Homo sapiens: one gene and its partners. The protein of the gene in region 1 interacts with the protein of each later gene in a biochemical or structural test. Each region holds a gene or a part of one and is shown in the gene's direction. Other genes may lie near its edges.

What was found.
Region 2: the proteins of BFAR (region 1) and PRPF19 form a complex in vitro, tested with the Homo sapiens proteins (one study listed by BioGRID).
Region 3: the proteins of BFAR (region 1) and NGFR form a complex in vitro, tested with the Homo sapiens proteins (one study listed by BioGRID).

What each region holds. Positions count from the first base shown.
Region 1 is NC_000016.10:14,663,483-14,670,100, forward strand, and holds the end of BFAR (bifunctional apoptosis regulator), read left to right. Parts: intron 1-1,386; coding exon 1,387-1,589; intron 1,590-4,152; coding exon 4,153-4,345; 3' UTR 4,346-5,754; downstream 5,755-6,618. UniProt on the Homo sapiens protein: Membrane-bound E3 ubiquitin ligase that plays a role in several processes including apoptosis regulation or reticulum endoplasmic stress. Has anti-apoptotic activity, both for apoptosis triggered via death-receptors and via mitochondrial factors.
Region 2 is NC_000011.10:60,896,272-60,904,103, reverse strand, and holds part of PRPF19 (pre-mRNA-processing factor 19), read left to right. Parts: intron 1-242; coding exon 243-392; intron 393-568; coding exon 569-645; intron 646-1,222; coding exon 1,223-1,364; intron 1,365-1,447; coding exon 1,448-1,521; intron 1,522-1,638; coding exon 1,639-1,701; intron 1,702-2,563; coding exon 2,564-2,605; intron 2,606-2,734; coding exon 2,735-2,809; intron 2,810-3,174; coding exon 3,175-3,250; intron 3,251-3,412; coding exon 3,413-3,522; intron 3,523-4,799; coding exon 4,800-4,955; intron 4,956-5,172; coding exon 5,173-5,242; intron 5,243-5,477; coding exon 5,478-5,563; intron 5,564-5,832; coding exon 5,833-6,003; intron 6,004-6,152; coding exon 6,153-6,258; intron 6,259-7,832. UniProt on the Homo sapiens protein: Ubiquitin-protein ligase which is a core component of several complexes mainly involved pre-mRNA splicing and DNA repair. Required for pre-mRNA splicing as component of the spliceosome.
Region 3 is NC_000017.11:49,512,293-49,515,508, forward strand, and holds the end of NGFR (tumor necrosis factor receptor superfamily member 16 precursor), read left to right. Parts: intron 1-415; coding exon 416-717; 3' UTR 718-2,716; downstream 2,717-3,216. UniProt on the Homo sapiens protein: Low affinity receptor which can bind to NGF, BDNF, NTF3, and NTF4. Forms a heterodimeric receptor with SORCS2 that binds the precursor forms of NGF, BDNF and NTF3 with high affinity, and has much lower affinity for mature NGF and BDNF.

The sequences.
Region 1 (6,618 bases):
CACCACACCCGGCTAATTTTTTGTGTTTTTAGTAGAGATGGGGTTTCACTGTGTCAGCCAGGATGGTCTTGATCTCCTGACCTCGTAATCCGCCCTCCTCAGCCTCCCAAAGTGCTGGGATTACAGGCGTGAGCCACTGTACCTGGCCATCATCAGGCTAATTTTTTATCTGCTAATATGTGTAATTGAAAAGCTTCTCCTCCTGCCATCACAAAAAAAATTACCTTTTTTTGGAGGGAGGAGGGAGTGTTTGTAATTTTCCCAGAAACTACCATTATTCTACCATAGCCAATGTTGAATTTAGGAAATGGTTCAAGCTACCATTTGGGTAGCTTGATGGGAGAATAACTGGTTAATTTAAATTTATTTCAATGTATTCATAATTCATGCTTTTTTTTTTCTGAGCTTCCACAATTATATGACAAGCATTTCATTTCAACCTTTTTGCTAACATTTACTTAATTTGAGATTAATTACGGCCGGGTGCGGTGGTTCACTCCTATAATCCAAGCACTTTGGGAGGCAGAGGCGGGCAAATCACCTGAGGTCAGGAGTTTCAAGACCAGCCTGGCCAACATGGCAAAACCTCGTCTCTACTAAAAATACAAAAATTAGCCGGGCGTGGTGGTATACACCTTTAATCCCAGAAGCACTGTCTGTGTCTTGGATGGTAGCGAGACAAGATGGTGGATCCCCAGACTCAGGGCTTGTATACATAGGGAAGGGGCATACATGCTTCAGAAGGGATGTGCAGAACAATTGCTTAGGGTCGGGATTTATGGTAAGTACGAGAACATACTCAGGAGGCTGAGACAGGAGAATCACTTGAACCCAGGAGGTGGAGGCTGCAGTGAGCCGAGATGGCACCACTGCATTCCAGCCTGGGTAACAGATCAAGACTCCGTCTCAAAAAAAAAAAAAAAAAAAACAATTACAAGATGAGTTGATGGATGGAAATTTCATTTTAGATTGTTGGATGTGTGTGTGTGTGTGGTAATCAATGTAGAACTCACTGTGATCATCACAATTTTTTTTGAGACACAGTCTCCCTCTATCACCCAGGGTGAAGTGCAGTGGTGCGATCTCAACTCACTGCAACCTGCACATCCCGGGTTCAAGTGATTCTCTTGCCTCAGCCTCTAGAGTAGTTGGGATTACAGGCACACACCACCACGTCTGGCCAATTTTTGAATTTTTAGTAGAGATGGGGTTTCACCATGTTGGCCAGCCTGGTCTTGAACTCCTTACCTCAGGTGATCCGCCCACCTAGGCCTCCCAAAGTGGTGGGATTACAGGTGTGAGCCACCGTGCCTAGCCTGATCATCACAATATTTTGTGTAAAAGTCAGTCCTCATGACTTTTTGCGTCTGTGTGTTATTTTTTAAGGATCTTAAGGAGCCTACGTGGAAGCAGTGGAGAGAGTTCCTGGTCAAATACTCCTTCCTTCCATACCAGCTGATTGCTGAGTTTGCTTGGGACTGGTTGGAGGTCCATTACTGGACATCACGGTTTCTCATCATCAATGCTATGTTACTCTCAGTTCTGGAATTATTCTCCTTTTGGAGAATCTGGTCGAGAAGTGAACTGAAGTAAGTATGTTTTAATGGTTGTCACAACAGGGGATGGGAAAGAAATACCAAGTGAGAGAAAGATCCTCTTTTATTTCTCACACTTGAAATAAATCCTCCATCCACCCAGACCCTTCAGACTCTGCTTTGAGAAACCTAGCTTAAGCAGTGAATAGGACAATTACCTGTGTTTTGGGGGTGGGGGTTGTGGTGCTCATTGTTAAAAGTATTTTCCTATATGTCTTATCTCTATGCAATAATATACCATTTAATTTCAGGGGGAGGGGGGCAAAGGATTGTAATAATCAAGGAATAAGCAACTGAATAGAAAAGGGTCTGTTTTAAGGTAGGCAGGCCTGTGCAAACCTATCCCCTAAATCAGAGGAAGCTGAGGGGCTGAAGGAAGAAGCTGGCAAATTCAGTTTCTCAGAAAGAAACACTTAATAAGGCCTTGCCAACAGAAGCCCTGTCTGTGTCTTGGATGGTAGCGAGACAAGATGGTGGATCCCCAGACTCAGGGCTTGTATACATAGGGAAGGGGCATACATGCTTCAGAAGGGATGTGCAGAACAATTGCTTAGGGTCGGGATCTATGGTAAGTAAGAGAACATCAAGGCTGTTTCACCAAAGGGCAGGATTTACGTGATGTACGTGCTCTTACACAAGAAACATTAGATAAAACCAGAGATCTTAGAGGCTTCCCCCAAACCGGAGTTAGTGAGAAGTCAATATGGCAGATTAGCATCCAATATAGAGTTGCTTTGGCCTCCACAGGGTGCTTTATAGAAAATGCAGTAAGGTAGAGCATAAAGAGATCTCATGGGAAATTCTGTAGGCATGAGTTCTAATCCTGATCTGTAACCAACTAGGATAATAATAACTTAGGCTTCAAGCATGACTGGACCCTGAGACCCAAACGCTGTCACCAGTACTGACTCTTTCTCTGTCCCTCACAGCACTGTTCTTTCTTGTGTTTTCTGCCTCAGGCATCTCTCTTCATGTGGGGGCCCTTGTCTTCTCCACTCCAGACTTTGATCTGTGCAGCTTAACAAACCTCCAGAAAGAAAGCACTTCCTTCCCTGTGGCACTGGAAAAGGTCTCAGGGCTCACATGCCTTTGTTCTGATGGACCCAGGCTTGAGGCATGAGTTCACCCCACAACCAGAGGCTGGTTTCAGCCCTACCCAGACCACATGGAAAAGAACAAAGGAGAGAGAATCCCCAAAACTTAGAGGCTGTTGCCAGGTGCAGTGGTTCATGCCTGTAATCCTAGAACTTTGGGAGGCCAAGGCAGGTGGATCACCTGAGGTCAGGAGTTCGAGACCAGCCTGGCCAACATAGTGAAACCTCATCTCTACCAAAAATACAAAAATTAGCCAGGCGTGGCGGTGGGTGCCTGTAATCCCAGCTACTCGGGAGGCTGAGGCAGGAGGATCGCTTGAACTCAGAGAGGTGGAGGTTGCAGTGAGCTAAGATTGCACCATTGCACTCCACCCTGGGCGACAAAACGAGAGTCCATCTCAAAAAACCCCCAAAAACTTAGAAGCTATTTCCAGAAGAAAGGGACAGGCAGAAGTAACACTGCCACCCTTGCAGCCTTTTACCTTGACATTCTGACTCGCAGCCTTATGAATGGTTCTGAGAACCTAACAATCTCCCTCACCTTTCCAATGGTGACTCACTAGGTAAAAATAAAAAAAGAATCTCCCTCATTTCTTTCCATTTAGCAAACTCACTTATTTATATACAATATGCATATTTATGCCCCTACTGTACTCCTGGTTCTCTCCTGGGCATGGCAGATCTTTTGGTAAAGAAGACAGTCTATAGTGTGAGGCCCTACAGCCTAGCAAAGAAAATATGTACGTTAAAAAATAGATGGTCAGGCACCTTGGCTCATGCCTGTAATCCCAGCACTTTGGGAGGTGAGAGGATTGCTTGAGACCAGGAGTTCAAGTGCAGCCTGGGCAACGTGGCAAAACCTGTCTCTAAAAATACAAAAAATTAACTGGGCGTGGTGGTGCACACCTGTAGTCCCAGCTACTCGGGAGGTTGAGGTGGAGGATCACCTGAGCCGAGGAGTTTGAGACCAGCCTGGGTAACATAGCGAGACCTTGTCCCTACTTAAAATAATAATAATAATAATAATAATAATTAGCCAGATGTGGTGATGTGTGCCTGTGGTCCCAGCTACTCAGGAGGATCACTTGAGACCTGGAGGTCAAGGCTGCAGTTGAGCCACATTTGCACCACTGCACTCCCAGGCTGGACAAAGGAATGAGACCCTGTCTCAAAAGGAAAAAAAAATATGTAAATGTAACAAAGTGATGAAGCAGGTGAAGTTGAGGCTGTCACAGGGAGGCCTTGCCCAGTGTGGGGGCAAAGAAGCTCCCTGTAGGTCATGTCCTTGAGAGTTAAAAGATGGGTTGAGTAGGCAGAGGTCTCAGGCACCGGGGACAGAAGACAAGGACATTCAGCACGGGCAGCCATGCTCTTCCCAGCACCCAGAAAAGGCCCAGGGCCCGGACTCCTGGGTGTGGTCATGAGAAGCGCCTCCGATTCAGCCTCTTCTCTTCTTGTTTCAGGACCGTGCCTCAGAGGATGTGGAGCCATTTCTGGAAAGTATCAACGCAGGGGCTTTTTGTGGCCATGTTCTGGCCCCTCATCCCTCAGTTTGTTTGCAACTGTTTGTTTTACTGGGCCCTGTACTTTAACCCAATTATTAACATTGATCTTGTGGTCAAGGAACTCCGGCGGCTGGAAACCCAGGTGTTGTGACTGGCACTGCCCAGGCTGAGACTCTTCAAGTCCCGCTGACGTCTGAGCTTTGATGCTTAAGAGGGGTGAGGCAGGGAGCGGACTTCCTATTTTCTACCCTCAGTAAAACAAGGTGCTGCTTTGTATATCAAAAGCTCCAACCATGTCCTCTCCCCCTCAGCCTGTGGGTGGCACGAGCAAGGACTGACATCCGCACAGGGAGGATTGTCTGTTTGGCTGACACAGCAGCAGCCCTTCCCACCCAGCCACCTTCCTCACAGGGACTAGGAGGCTCAGTCCCCAACGGCTGGCAAGACTCAGGGTCCTCAGTGGACATGGTGTGGGTGACATCAGAAGGGTGCCACATCAGTCCCCTCCCCAACCTCAGTGACTGACAGAGGATCCGGATCTCAGAGCCTGAGACCAGGTTTATTGGGGCCTGGCCTGTCCTCTAAGTCAAGTTTAGGAAAACAAGGATAAGATTCTGTCATAGGCATAGAGAGTTGCACATAAAAAATACCGAAGAAAACCCAAAATTCAATCAACAATTCTGTCTTATTGAAGAGTTGCTAGGATTCAGAGTAAAACTCAAAGGATTCAGTTTGAGCCTAGAATGATGGTTAGACTTGTAGTCACTGGGCTTTTGTTTTGCTTTATGGAAATCATTGAAGGTCTGGATCCCTTTCTCTGAATGGAGAGATTGAGAGGGATGTCGGGCAGTTCCCATTAGATTTAGTGGCCTTCATGTTATTCAGAATTGTTTTGGTGATACCTCACCCCTGTAATCCCAGCACTTTGGGTGGGTGAGGCAGGCGGATCACTTGAAGCCAGGACTTCAAGACCAGCTTGGCCAACATGGTGAAACCTCATCTCTACTAAAAATACAAAAATTAGCCAAGTGTGATGGCACATACCTGTAATCCCAGCTACTTGGAATTGGAAATCGCCTGAACCCAGGAGGCGGAGGTTGCAGGGAGGGAGACTGCACCACTGCACTTCAGCCTGGGTGACAGAGGGAGACTCTGTCTTAAAAAAAAAAAAAAAATCATCTGTAAAATAAATTCCGGGATAGTCGTTTTGTTCAAGGAAATGTTTTGTAAATTGAGCTCACACTATATAATCTTTATTGTCCTATCCTGATGTATAATACAGCAGGTATAATTACACCAAGCGCTATAGTTATAAATATGGCATGAAGTGAACTATGGCCTTTTATTTCCTTCCAGTGTGAACACAGCAGGTGTGAGATGTCATCTTGGAAGACAGGCCTTGCAGAAATAGGCCTACATCCAAAATATTATCTTGTGACTCCATGAACCATTCATTAACCCTTTGTATCTTTGAGTGAAAATTTTACTCAAAAGTTGCATCTGGAAGTTCGAAGAAATTACTTGAAATAAAAATAAAGATTTCTATATAGATAAAACCTATATGTAGAGAAAAAGCAATTGTCTAGAAAACACAAAACTTCTGCATTGCCGGATAGAATCTTCTAGCCATGGGCCGAGCGTGGTGGTTCGCGCCTGTAATCCCGGCACTTTGGGAGGCCAAGGTGGATGGATCACTTGAGGTCAGGAGTTCAAGACCAGCCTGACGAACATGGTGAAACCCCGTCTCTACTGAAAATACAAAAATTAGCCAGGCACGGTGGTGCGCACCTGTAGTCCCAGCTACTTGGGAGGCTGAGGCAGGAGAATCACTTGAACCCAGGAGGCAGAAGTTGCATTGAGCCAAGATCATGCCACTGCACTCCATCTGGGTGACTGAGCAAGATTCCGTCTCAAAAAAAAAAAAGTCATCTAGTCAGTCTAGTCATGCTTAAATCCCCCAGCCTGACGCAGATACTGAGCCGAGGAGCCACCCTAAGGGAAAATGGGTTTTTTCCTGCTCGTGTTTGCACATCAAGCCCCAGGGTTGCTTGACTTTACCTATTTAATGCTTGTGACCTCCCATGGACACTCACATGGCAGTGTTTGCATATCCCTGGTCTCATGCCACCCAGGGGTTGCCAGTATCCTTTACAGGTGAATAGATGGAGGATGGCTGGCAAAACACCAAGTTGGCGCTGGCTGGCTTTGGCAGAGCTGGGCCTGGGCCATCCACCTCCACCCCATGGCCTCTCACATTGTCGCCACCTGCTCCCACACCCTGCTTCAAAGATGAGTAATACCCAGATTTGCTCAGGGACTGGGGCAAAGCCATGGCGTAGAGCAAACAGGCTGGGCAGGACCTTACTCCTTATCACCAGCAGGAGGGACGGGCACACTCAGATCAGGGGCCACAGGCTGCCTCTA
Region 2 (7,832 bases), on another chromosome or scaffold:
GACTATATGATTGTCAGATAGTCAGGAGACTATCTCCTCAGTCAGGAGACTAAAGGAAAAGGTAGTTCCATAGCTGGAAAGCATTCTGGGGCCAGTACAGAACTGGCTTAGGGTCAAATGTCTTGCTTTCTGCTAGTTGAGTGTGAGGATGCCTAGTCTTGTTGGGGCTAATAGCAGATGAGGAATCCTCTAGGCCCAAGATTGCCTTCACTCCAAGCTCACTACCAGCCTTTTCTCTACAGTCTCTAACGAAGTGCCGGAGCACCCATGTGTATCCCCTGTCTCTAATCATGTTTATGAGCGGCGGCTCATCGAGAAGTACATTGCGGAGAATGGTACCGACCCCATCAACAACCAGCCTCTCTCCGAGGAGCAGCTCATCGACATCAAAGGTGCCTATTGGCTGCCTTAGTCTAGGGCCATCTTAGCTCAGAGCCTGAGAGGATGGGAGGTGGTGCCAGTGCACTGGAGGAAGAGATGGTGGGCTGTTTATGGCTAAAAGGAAAAGATGTGATGGCGGGGGAGGCCCCTGGGTTATGTTCTTCATACCTGCTTTCCCTTTCGGCAGTTGCTCACCCAATCCGGCCCAAGCCTCCCTCAGCCACCAGCATCCCGGCCATTCTGAAAGCTTTGCAGGATGAGTGGGTGAGTTCCTGCAAGAGAATCAGCATCTTCCCCACTTGAAGAGAATGCATTGCTGGGTTAGGACTTGGGGGTAGGAAGGATGGAGCATTATTTAGAGGGTAAACTTTGTGACATCAGGGATTTGTTTTATTCTTCGTTGTATCCCCAGCACTGAGAGCAGCACCTGGTACATAGTAGGTGCTCTAGAGTTATGAATTGAATGATTGAATACATCCTGCAGGACTGTCTGGCACAGTGCCTGACACAACGAGGGCGATCAATAAATAGCAGCAGCAGCAGTGTTGTTATTCTCTTTTAGAGAGGGGACGGCATGACAGCTGGGATTTGCCAGTAAGTTAGGGAAGGTGGGGATGGGAAAGAGCTGGCTCCCACTCCTGTCTGTGTGCCCAGTGGTTCGCTTGGGGTAGGAGCTCAAGAGTGTCTGCCGGCACATTCGTGTTTGCTCGGATATTGTTTGGGTCACTGATACTGGTCTAGGCTCTGGGATAGGAGGCAGCATCCCCTCCCCAAGGGCTGACTCCACTGGGTACTCCCTGCACCCCCCACCTCACCTTACAATGATATTTGCTTCTCCCAGGATGCAGTCATGCTGCACAGCTTCACTCTGCGCCAGCAGCTGCAGACAACCCGCCAAGAGCTGTCACACGCTCTGTACCAGCACGATGCCGCCTGCCGTGTCATTGCCCGTCTCACCAAGGAAGTCACTGCTGCCCGAGAAGGTGCAGCCTCTCCCCTGCCATCCCCCACCCTGGGCTGGTTCTGCATTGTAATATCCCATTTCTAACATCGTCTTTTCTCTCAGCTCTGGCTACCCTGAAACCACAGGCTGGCCTCATTGTGCCCCAGGCTGTGCCAAGTTCCCAACCAAGTGTTGTGGTAAGTGTCCCCCTTCCCTTACCAGCAGCCCATTTGTGTACAGTGGCCCACAGAACTGTCCTTATGCAGGTGTCTTTGGTGCTCTGTGCCTCTCACCCTCACCTTTCTTCTCTTCAGGGTGCGGGTGAGCCAATGGATTTGGGTGAGCTGGTGGGAATGACCCCAGAGATTATTCAGAAGGTAAGTCCTGCTCTCACCTGGTGGGAGTGCTGATGGGCCCTTACTTTTCACCATCTGTCTGGAGTCCATCGTGACTAAAATCACTGTGCTTTTGGGAGTTGAGTGGTGCAGAGCATGGACCCTGGGACCAGATTGCCTGGGTTTGTATTTTGATGCCACTACTTGTAAGCTTTATGACCTTGGCTTACTTAGCCAACCCTTACGTGTCTCATTTCCCTAGCTTCTAAACTGAGAATATGATCATATCCACTGTATAGGCAGGCTGTGGGAATTTAAAAGATTTCATTACTGATAAGTGCACCTTTTAGCTCTTATTGTTATTGAGATTCTTTGCAGATAGTAAACTACTTTTATATATTTTCTTGTTTTTTTTCTATGAGGGCAATAGGATAGGAATTATAATCCTTATTTTGCAGATGAAAGACACATCTGAGAGGCAGAGCTGGGCTTCCTGATTGCAAGTCCAGTGGGATTCTCATTTGCAGGGCTTCTTAGTGTCTTTCTGAGCAGTTCAAATTGTCAGCATGTGTCTGAGCCCTTGGCTTAGTGGCGTGTAGACCTATGGGAGCTCTACAGTCCTAGCTTCTATTCTTGCTCTGCTGTTTATCACCTCTGCGACCTTGGGCAATTGACTTCACTTCTCTGAGGCTCAGTTTCCTCAGCTGTAAAATAAGGTCATCAACACCCCCCTCATAAAGCTGGGATGGAAGTAAGAAGAGAGAATGCCTTTAAGCCTGTAACGTAGAAGTTGGCAGATAGCAAGTTCTTGGTGCTGCTTTTGAAAGCACAGGTGTGACCAGCATCTAATGTACTTTTCTCCTTGCAAGATGATTTGTCTCACATTGAGCCTGTTCTTCCCCAGCTTCAAGACAAAGCCACTGTGCTAACCACGGAGCGCAAGAAGGTGAGTTCTCTTTCTGAAGCCTGGAGAAAGAGCTGGCCTGGTGGGAGGCGGTTGACTCCTTAGGAGAGAGAGGGCGGCTGAATCTTGGATTCATTGCTGCTCTTCTTTGGGGGCTTTTCATTTTCTCAGAGAGGGAAGACTGTGCCTGAGGAGCTGGTGAAGCCAGAAGAGCTCAGCAAATACCGGCAGGTGGCATCCCACGTGGTGAGTGTCTGGGTCTCCACTGTCTTGGAGACAGCCCTCCCGTTTTGTTTCTGGGGTGGGCGGGCCAGCATGGGGAGTGCTGAGTGCAGAGCTGTCCCAGGTTCCTGGCGCTGTTCCTGGTGCTGTTTCTCGCCTGGGCTGCTGAGTTGTCAGGGCTCCTCTTTCTGCCCAGCTGTGGGTTTCCTAGTGATGCAGTGAGGGAGTTACCGTACCAGGCAGATAGCCAAGAGGTATGGATAAGGAATAGAAGTAACTCTTGCTCCCCTGAGAACATGGGTGACTGGAGATGGCAGTAGGGGAGGTCTGTGGCTTTGTGGCCTGCTGTGATTTGGCCGTGACAGGGTTTGGTGTGTCTCTCTGCAAAGGGGTTGCACAGTGCCAGCATTCCTGGGATCCTGGCCCTGGACCTCTGCCCGTCCGACACCAACAAGATCCTCACTGGTGAGAGTCTGGGCCTAGCCCGGCAGGCCAAAGTGGGGAGGGGCAGCAGGGAAGGCGCATGCTCCTTGTCCTCTTCATGGGCATGGGAACAAAAGCATTTCCTTGAGCAAAAGGGCCTGGGTGGGCCTGACTCATTGTTTGGTCTTTTTGGGTCTTCTCCAGGTGGGGCGGATAAAAATGTCGTTGTGTTTGACAAAAGTTCTGAACAAATCCTGGCTACCCTCAAAGGCCATACCAAGAAGGTCACCAGCGTGGTGTTTCACCCTTCCCAGGTAAGGGGTTCTCCTCGCCACCCTTGGTTCTTCTTTCCTTGGCTGTTGTTTGTCCCTCACCCCGCTGCTGTCTCTGTGAAGTGGGGCTGGGAAAGAGCTCTGACTCTGACTCCTGAGTGGGCACTTGGAGGGGCTCACTTTGGAGTTGTGGAGATTGCCCTTCACTCTGCGTGAGACCTTCTAAAGCAGTGATCTTCCAGCCAGGGAGAGAACGGAAATGTGTAGTTTGACAAGCATATTCATTGAAATATTTCATATTAGGGAAAGAAAAAATCTTATAGTGTTCCTAATATAAACTACAGAAAACAAAGCTCAACACAATCTCAACTCACACTTACGAGGAGGACAGATATATCTGCTTTCCCATGATCCTCCAAGATGGGTAAAAATCATGTTGACTGTTGAAAGTGGTGTAGGTTGTAAACAGAACCTCTGGTTTACAGGGTAAAGGTAACTCATGGGACCAGATTAATGATATTATGGGATTCGAATTTTAAGCCTAAGACAGTTTGGGTTTGGGGCTGCAGGACATGGTTGGTTTAGTGCTTCGCAGTCAAGATTTCCCTTGGACCTTAGGGAAATGAGAAATATAAGAATAACATGGTGAATTTTTCATGACTAAATTTGTTCAAATTGAGAGCACTGTTTTCTTGCTTATGGGGTATTAATAGTTAGGTCTCATGAAATTGTATTGATAAAAAAAGATGGTAGTTATTTTTACCTTATGGCTTTTAATATCCTAACTAAACAAAAAATTGGTGAGTGACGCGAAATTCTCTCCCTGCCCCAAATCTTTTGGAAAATTAACTTACCCTGGAAATCCATAAAAGTGGAATGCACTGAAATACAGCCATGCAGCCCCTTCCAGTCCCAGTACTGCTCAGACCTGTGCCATACAGTACAGTAGCAGTTAGCTGCATGTGGCTATTTAAATTTCAATGAAATAGAATAAAAAATTCAGTCCCTCAATTGTACTAGCTACATTTTTCCTTTGGTCCTGGAAATGGGAAAATTGCTCTCTGTTGCAGTTAGCCTTTTTACCACTAGATGGCGAGGACGCCTCCACAAGCCCTGATGCTGTATGAGTTAGCACTTTAATAGCGTTTACCATTGGCTGTCTTGGGCACCATTGGGTGGATAGGTGGTTCCAGGGAGGGCAGAGCTGAAAGGAGAAGCAATTGTTGGCAGTTGTGGGCATCCCCAGCCCCGTTTTATAAGATTGTTTTGGTCTGTATCTCTTTTCTGACTCTGATATTCTGTCTTTGTTTTCCTTGTAGGACCTGGTGTTTTCTGCTTCCCCCGATGCCACTATCAGGATTTGGTCGGTCCCCAATGCCTCTTGTGTACAGGTGGTTCGGGCCCATGAGAGTGCTGTGACAGGCCTCAGCCTTCATGCCACTGGCGACTATCTCCTGAGCTCCTCCGATGATCAGGTGCGGTCCCAGCCAGTGCCCTGGAGAGGCCTGCTGGTCCCCAAGCTTGAACATCCTGGGTGGCAGGAACATCTTCCCACCCCAGCTGGTTCCCCAGAACCTCAAAGGAGAATGTTTGCCAGGGTTTGCCAAACCAGGGGCTCTGTCTTGCTGAAGGGCCACCAGAACCTGGGACCCACTTTCTCACTGACTCCATTGTCTCTTTTTTTTTCCCCAGTACTGGGCTTTCTCTGACATCCAGACAGGGCGTGTGCTCACCAAGGTGACAGATGAGACCTCCGGCTGCTGTAAGTTGCCTCATAGGCACTCAGCTTTTTTGTTTGCTGTTTATTATTTATTTTTACATTTTATTTAGTCATTTGTTTATTTGTTCTAAAGATATATTTACCATGAGCACCTGTCTAGTGCGGGCTTTGTGCTGGGTTCACTGAGGAATGTGAAGAACAAGGAACCTACCTTTGCTGCTCTTAGTCTCTCTCCCTGGTGGGCTCTGACCACAGGTCTCTCTTCCCTCCTCCACAGCTCTCACCTGTGCACAGTTCCACCCTGACGGACTCATCTTTGGAACAGGAACCATGGACTCTCAGATCAAGATCTGGGACTTGAAGGTAGGACATGGTAGGCCTCCATCTGAGGCCCAGGGCCAGAGGGAGTGTTTGTGACAATGCAGTGCTAATTAGGTGCTTGTGGCACCTGGCCCTGAAGGTGGAGAGACACTGGCTGTGCGTGTGTGATATGATGGTGTGGTCTGGGGGGTCCCGCTGGCTGTCCTTCCTGGAAGGACGTGAGGGACATCTCAGGTAGGAGTTTGGTGAGCCCCATTTTCTTCCTCTCATGATCTGTGGGTGACGTATTTTACTACCCACCGCCACTGTAGGAACGTACTAATGTGGCCAACTTCCCTGGCCACTCGGGCCCCATCACTAGCATCGCCTTCTCTGAGAATGGTTACTACCTGGCTACAGCGGCTGATGACTCCTCTGTCAAGCTCTGGGATCTGCGCAAGCTTAAGAACTTTAAGACTTTGCAGCTGGATAACAACTTTGAGGTGTGCCCTTCCCCCTCCGCCCAGCTTTCCATTGTGTCTCCTTGTTTGTCAATTATTTATTGAATTAATCTAATTGCTTCTGCTTATCCGCAACTGCCCCATAGTTTCTGTTCCCCTTGTGTGACCTTCTCTCTTTCTATTTCTGGCAGGTAAAGTCACTGATCTTTGACCAGAGTGGTACCTACCTGGCTCTTGGGGGCACGGATGTCCAGATCTACATCTGCAAACAATGGACGGAGATTCTTCACTTTACAGGTAGAGGCTGGTCCTGGGCTCCTGGGATCTCTCTAGGTGCCCAGGCCCGGAGGGAAGCCTCACTGGGTTAGGAATTTCTAGGGCTTGCATGAATTTACCTAAGCAGCTTTCTGTTACCACCTGAGGCAGAGCTTTATGACTAAGGAAGCAACTGAGTCAGACTGCATGGCAGTAGATGCTAGTGCTTGTTCTGCCACTTCCATGCCCTGTGGCATTGGGCAGGTTACTAAAGGGAGAGAAAAGTCCCTCTGAAGTTTTGATAACTGAATCTAAAATAAATGAACATTAGACAGTGACAGGAGGAGAGCCATTTTAATTACGTGCATATGCACGGGAGGCCCACATTATATTAGATCTGCAGAAGGGTCAGATGATTGAAGCTTATACAGTTTATATATCACTTAATAATGGGGATATGTTCTGAGAAATGTCTTGTTAGGTGATATCGTCATGTGCGACCATTGTAGAGTGAACTTACATATATCTAAATGGTGTAGCCTACTACACGCCAAGACTATTGCTATAACCTTAGTATAGTCTATTATTGCTCCTAGGCTACAAACCGGTACAGCATATTAAATGTAGTGAATACAATTATAACACAATGGTAAGTATTTGTGTATCTAAACAAGTGTAAACATAGAAAAGGTTCAGTAAAAATAAGGTATAAGAGATTTTTTTAAAATGGTACACTGGTATAGTGCTTGCCATGAAAGGAGCTTGCAGGACTGGAAGTTGCTTTCAGTGAGTGAGTTGTGAGTGAATGTGAAGGCCTAGGACATTACTGTACGCTGCTGTAGACTTTATAAACACAGTACACTTAGGTTTTACTAAATTCATAAAAAACTTTTTCTTCAGTAATAAGCCTTAGCTGACTTTTACTTTATAAACTTAAAAAAATGGATTCTTTTGTAATAACATTTAACTTAAAACTAAAACACATTGTACAGCTGTACAAAAATATTGTCTCTCTTTACATCCTTGTTCTATAAGCTTTTTTCTAATTTTTTTATTTTTATTTTTTACTTTTTAAACTTTTCTTGTTAAAAACTAAGACACAAGCACACATTACCCTAGGCCTACACAGGATCAGGATCACCAACTGTATTAGTCCGTTCTCACACTGCTATGAAGAACTGCCTGGGTAATTGATAAGGGAAAGAGGTTTAATTGACTCACAGTGACTCGGGAGGCCTCAGGAAACTTACAGTCATAGCAGCAGGGAAAGCAAACATGTCTTTCTTTACATGGCAACAGGAGAGACAAATGCTGAGCAAAGGGGCTAAAGCCCCTCATAAAACCATCAGATCTCGTGAGAACTCACTATCATGAGAACAGCATGGGGGTAACCACCCCCATGATTCAGTTACTTCCCACTGGCTCCCTCCCACAACACGTGGGGATTATGGGCACTACAATTCAAGATGAGATTTGGGTGGCGGCACAAAGCCTAACCATAGCACCAACATCACTGTCTTCTACCTCCACATCTTTTCCCACCGGAAGGTCTTCGGGGGCACCAACATGCATAAACCTGTCATCTCCTATGATGATAATGCCTTCTTCTCGGATAC
Region 3 (3,216 bases), on another chromosome or scaffold:
CCCCTGGGGGCTAATTATTGCCCAAAGTAGCTGCAATTAGCCTCTTGCCCTGGACTTCTGGGGAACAAGTAGTTAAGTGTGTACCCTAATTAGTGGCCCATAGCCCAGCTCCGGGACACTTGCTGTAGTTGTCTAGAACTGAGAAGCCCTATCTCCTCCTCTGCCATGATTAATTGCTGGGGGGGAAGAGAGGAGGGATGGGGATAGGGATTGGGCTGGAGTGACAGGAGGAAGGGACAACGAGTCCCCCCAGGTGCCTTCACTTCCTGGTGCCCCACCCAGGACCTTGTCTTGGCCCCAGGCCTCCAGATGGGGAGGAGCACTGCCTCGGCCCTTCTTGGGTCTCACCCCAGTGCCCACTGTTGGGGAAAGGAGTTCAGGGGTAGGACCTGACTCTCCTCTGGTTTCTCTGCAGCCCTCAAGGGTGACGGAGGCCTCTACAGCAGCCTGCCCCCAGCCAAGCGGGAGGAGGTGGAGAAGCTTCTCAACGGCTCTGCGGGGGACACCTGGCGGCACCTGGCGGGCGAGCTGGGCTACCAGCCCGAGCACATAGACTCCTTTACCCATGAGGCCTGCCCCGTTCGCGCCCTGCTTGCAAGCTGGGCCACCCAGGACAGCGCCACACTGGACGCCCTCCTGGCCGCCCTGCGCCGCATCCAGCGAGCCGACCTCGTGGAGAGTCTGTGCAGTGAGTCCACTGCCACATCCCCGGTGTGAGCCCAACCGGGGAGCCCCCGCCCCGCCCCACATTCCGACAACCGATGCTCCAGCCAACCCCTGTGGAGCCCGCACCCCCACCCTTTGGGGGGGGCCCGCCTGGCAGAACTGAGCTCCTCTGGGCAGGACCTCAGAGTCCAGGCCCCAAAACCACAGCCCTGTCAGTGCAGCCCGTGTGGCCCCTTCACTTCTGACCACACTTCCTGTCCAGAGAGAGAAGTGCCCCTGCTGCCTCCCCAACCCTGCCCCTGCCCCGTCACCATCTCAGGCCACCTGCCCCCTTCTCCCACACTGCTAGGTGGGCCAGCCCCTCCCACCACAGCAGGTGTCATATATGGGGGGCCAACACCAGGGATGGTACTAGGGGGAAGTGACAAGGCCCCAGAGACTCAGAGGGAGGAATCGAGGAACCAGAGCCATGGACTCTACACTGTGAACTTGGGGAACAAGGGTGGCATCCCAGTGGCCTCAACCCTCCCTCAGCCCCTCTTGCCCCCCACCCCAGCCTAAGATGAAGAGGATCGGAGGCTTGTCAGAGCTGGGAGGGGTTTTCGAAGCTCAGCCCACCCCCCTCATTTTGGATATAGGTCAGTGAGGCCCAGGGAGAGGCCATGATTCGCCCAAAGCCAGACAGCAACGGGGAGGCCAAGTGCAGGCTGGCACCGCCTTCTCTAAATGAGGGGCCTCAGGTTTGCCTGAGGGCGAGGGGAGGGTGGCAGGTGACCTTCTGGGAAATGGCTTGAAGCCAAGTCAGCTTTGCCTTCCACGCTGTCTCCAGACCCCCACCCCTTCCCCACTGCCTGCCCACCCGTGGAGATGGGATGCTTGCCTAGGGCCTGGTCCATGATGGAGTCAGGTTTGGGGTTCGTGGAAAGGGTGCTGCTTCCCTCTGCCTGTCCCTCTCAGGCATGCCTGTGTGACATCAGTGGCATGGCTCCAGTCTGCTGCCCTCCATCCCGACATGGACCCGGAGCTAACACTGGCCCCTAGAATCAGCCTAGGGGTCAGGGACCAAGGACCCCTCACCTTGCAACACACAGACACACGCACACACACACACAGGAGGAGAAATCTCACTTTTCTCCATGAGTTTTTTCTCTTGGGCTGAGACTGGATACTGCCCGGGGCAGCTGCCAGAGAAGCATCGGAGGGAATTGAGGTCTGCTCGGCCGTCTTCACTCGCCCCCGGGTTTGGCGGGCCAAGGACTGCCGACCGAGGCTGGAGCTGGCGTCTGTCTTCAAGGGCTTACACGTGGAGGAATGCTCCCCCATCCTCCCCTTCCCTGCAAACATGGGGTTGGCTGGGCCCAGAAGGTTGTGATGAAGAAAAGTGGGCCAGTGTGGGAATGCGGCAAGAAGGAATTGACTTCGACTGTGACCTGTGGGGATTTCTCCCAGCTCTAGACAACCCTGCAAAGGACTGTTTTTTCCTGAGCTTGGCCAGAAGGGGGCCATGAGGCCTCAGTGGACTTTCCACCCCCTCCCTGGCCTGTTCTGTTTTGCCTGAAGTTGGAGTGAGTGTGGCTCCCCTCTATTTAGCATGACAAGCCCCAGGCAGGCTGTGCGCTGACAACCACCGCTCCCCAGCCCAGGGTTCCCCCAGCCCTGTGGAAGGGACTAGGAGCACTGTAGTAAATGGCAATTCTTTGACCTCAACCTGTGATGAGGGGAGGAAACTCACCTGCTGGCCCCTCACCTGGGCACCTGGGGAGTGGGACAGAGTCTGGGTGTATTTATTTTCCTCCCCAGCAGGTGGGGAGGGGGTTTGGGGGCTTGCAAGTATGTTTTAGCATGTGTTTGGTTCTGGGGCCCCTTTTTACTCCCCTTGAGCTGAGATGGAACCCTTTTGGCCCCCGAGCTGGGGGCCATGAGCTCCAGACCCCCAGCAACCCTCCTATCACCTCCCCTCCTTGCCTCCTGTGTAATCATTTCTTGGGCCCTCCTGAAACTTACACACAAAACGTTAAGTGATGAACATTAAATAGCAAAGAAAGAAAAATAGTACAAAGAGATTTTCTGGAAATACACATGGTTTGAATTGTTTGGGATTGGGTGTGTGGCAGGGACCCAGGTATAATTTCCAATTCGGTCAATTCCTGCCCTCTTTTCCCCCACACCAAAAGGGGAAGTTTTAACAGAAATCCAGTAAGTTCCCATGTATCACTATGGGGTGAGGTGGGGAAGGAGAAGGGGCCCTTTGCTCCCAGATCTTGGAGAGGGAAAGTGAAAATGGCCACGCAGGAAGCTAGCCAGCTGTGAACTTGACCAGATGTCAGAAGTGAAACTGACCACAGGCAAGTCAGAGGCTCGCCAGGAGGGCCAGGTCACAACCCCACAGCTCCCAGCCACCCACGTGGCCTGGGAGACACACACACACACATACACACCACAGAGAGAGAGAGAGAGAATCTGGCTCCAGATGGCCTAGCAGGAGGCATTCGGCAGGCCTGGCCTGGAGTTAGGCAGGCAGGCCCCTCCCTTGTAGCTCTCGTGGGCAGG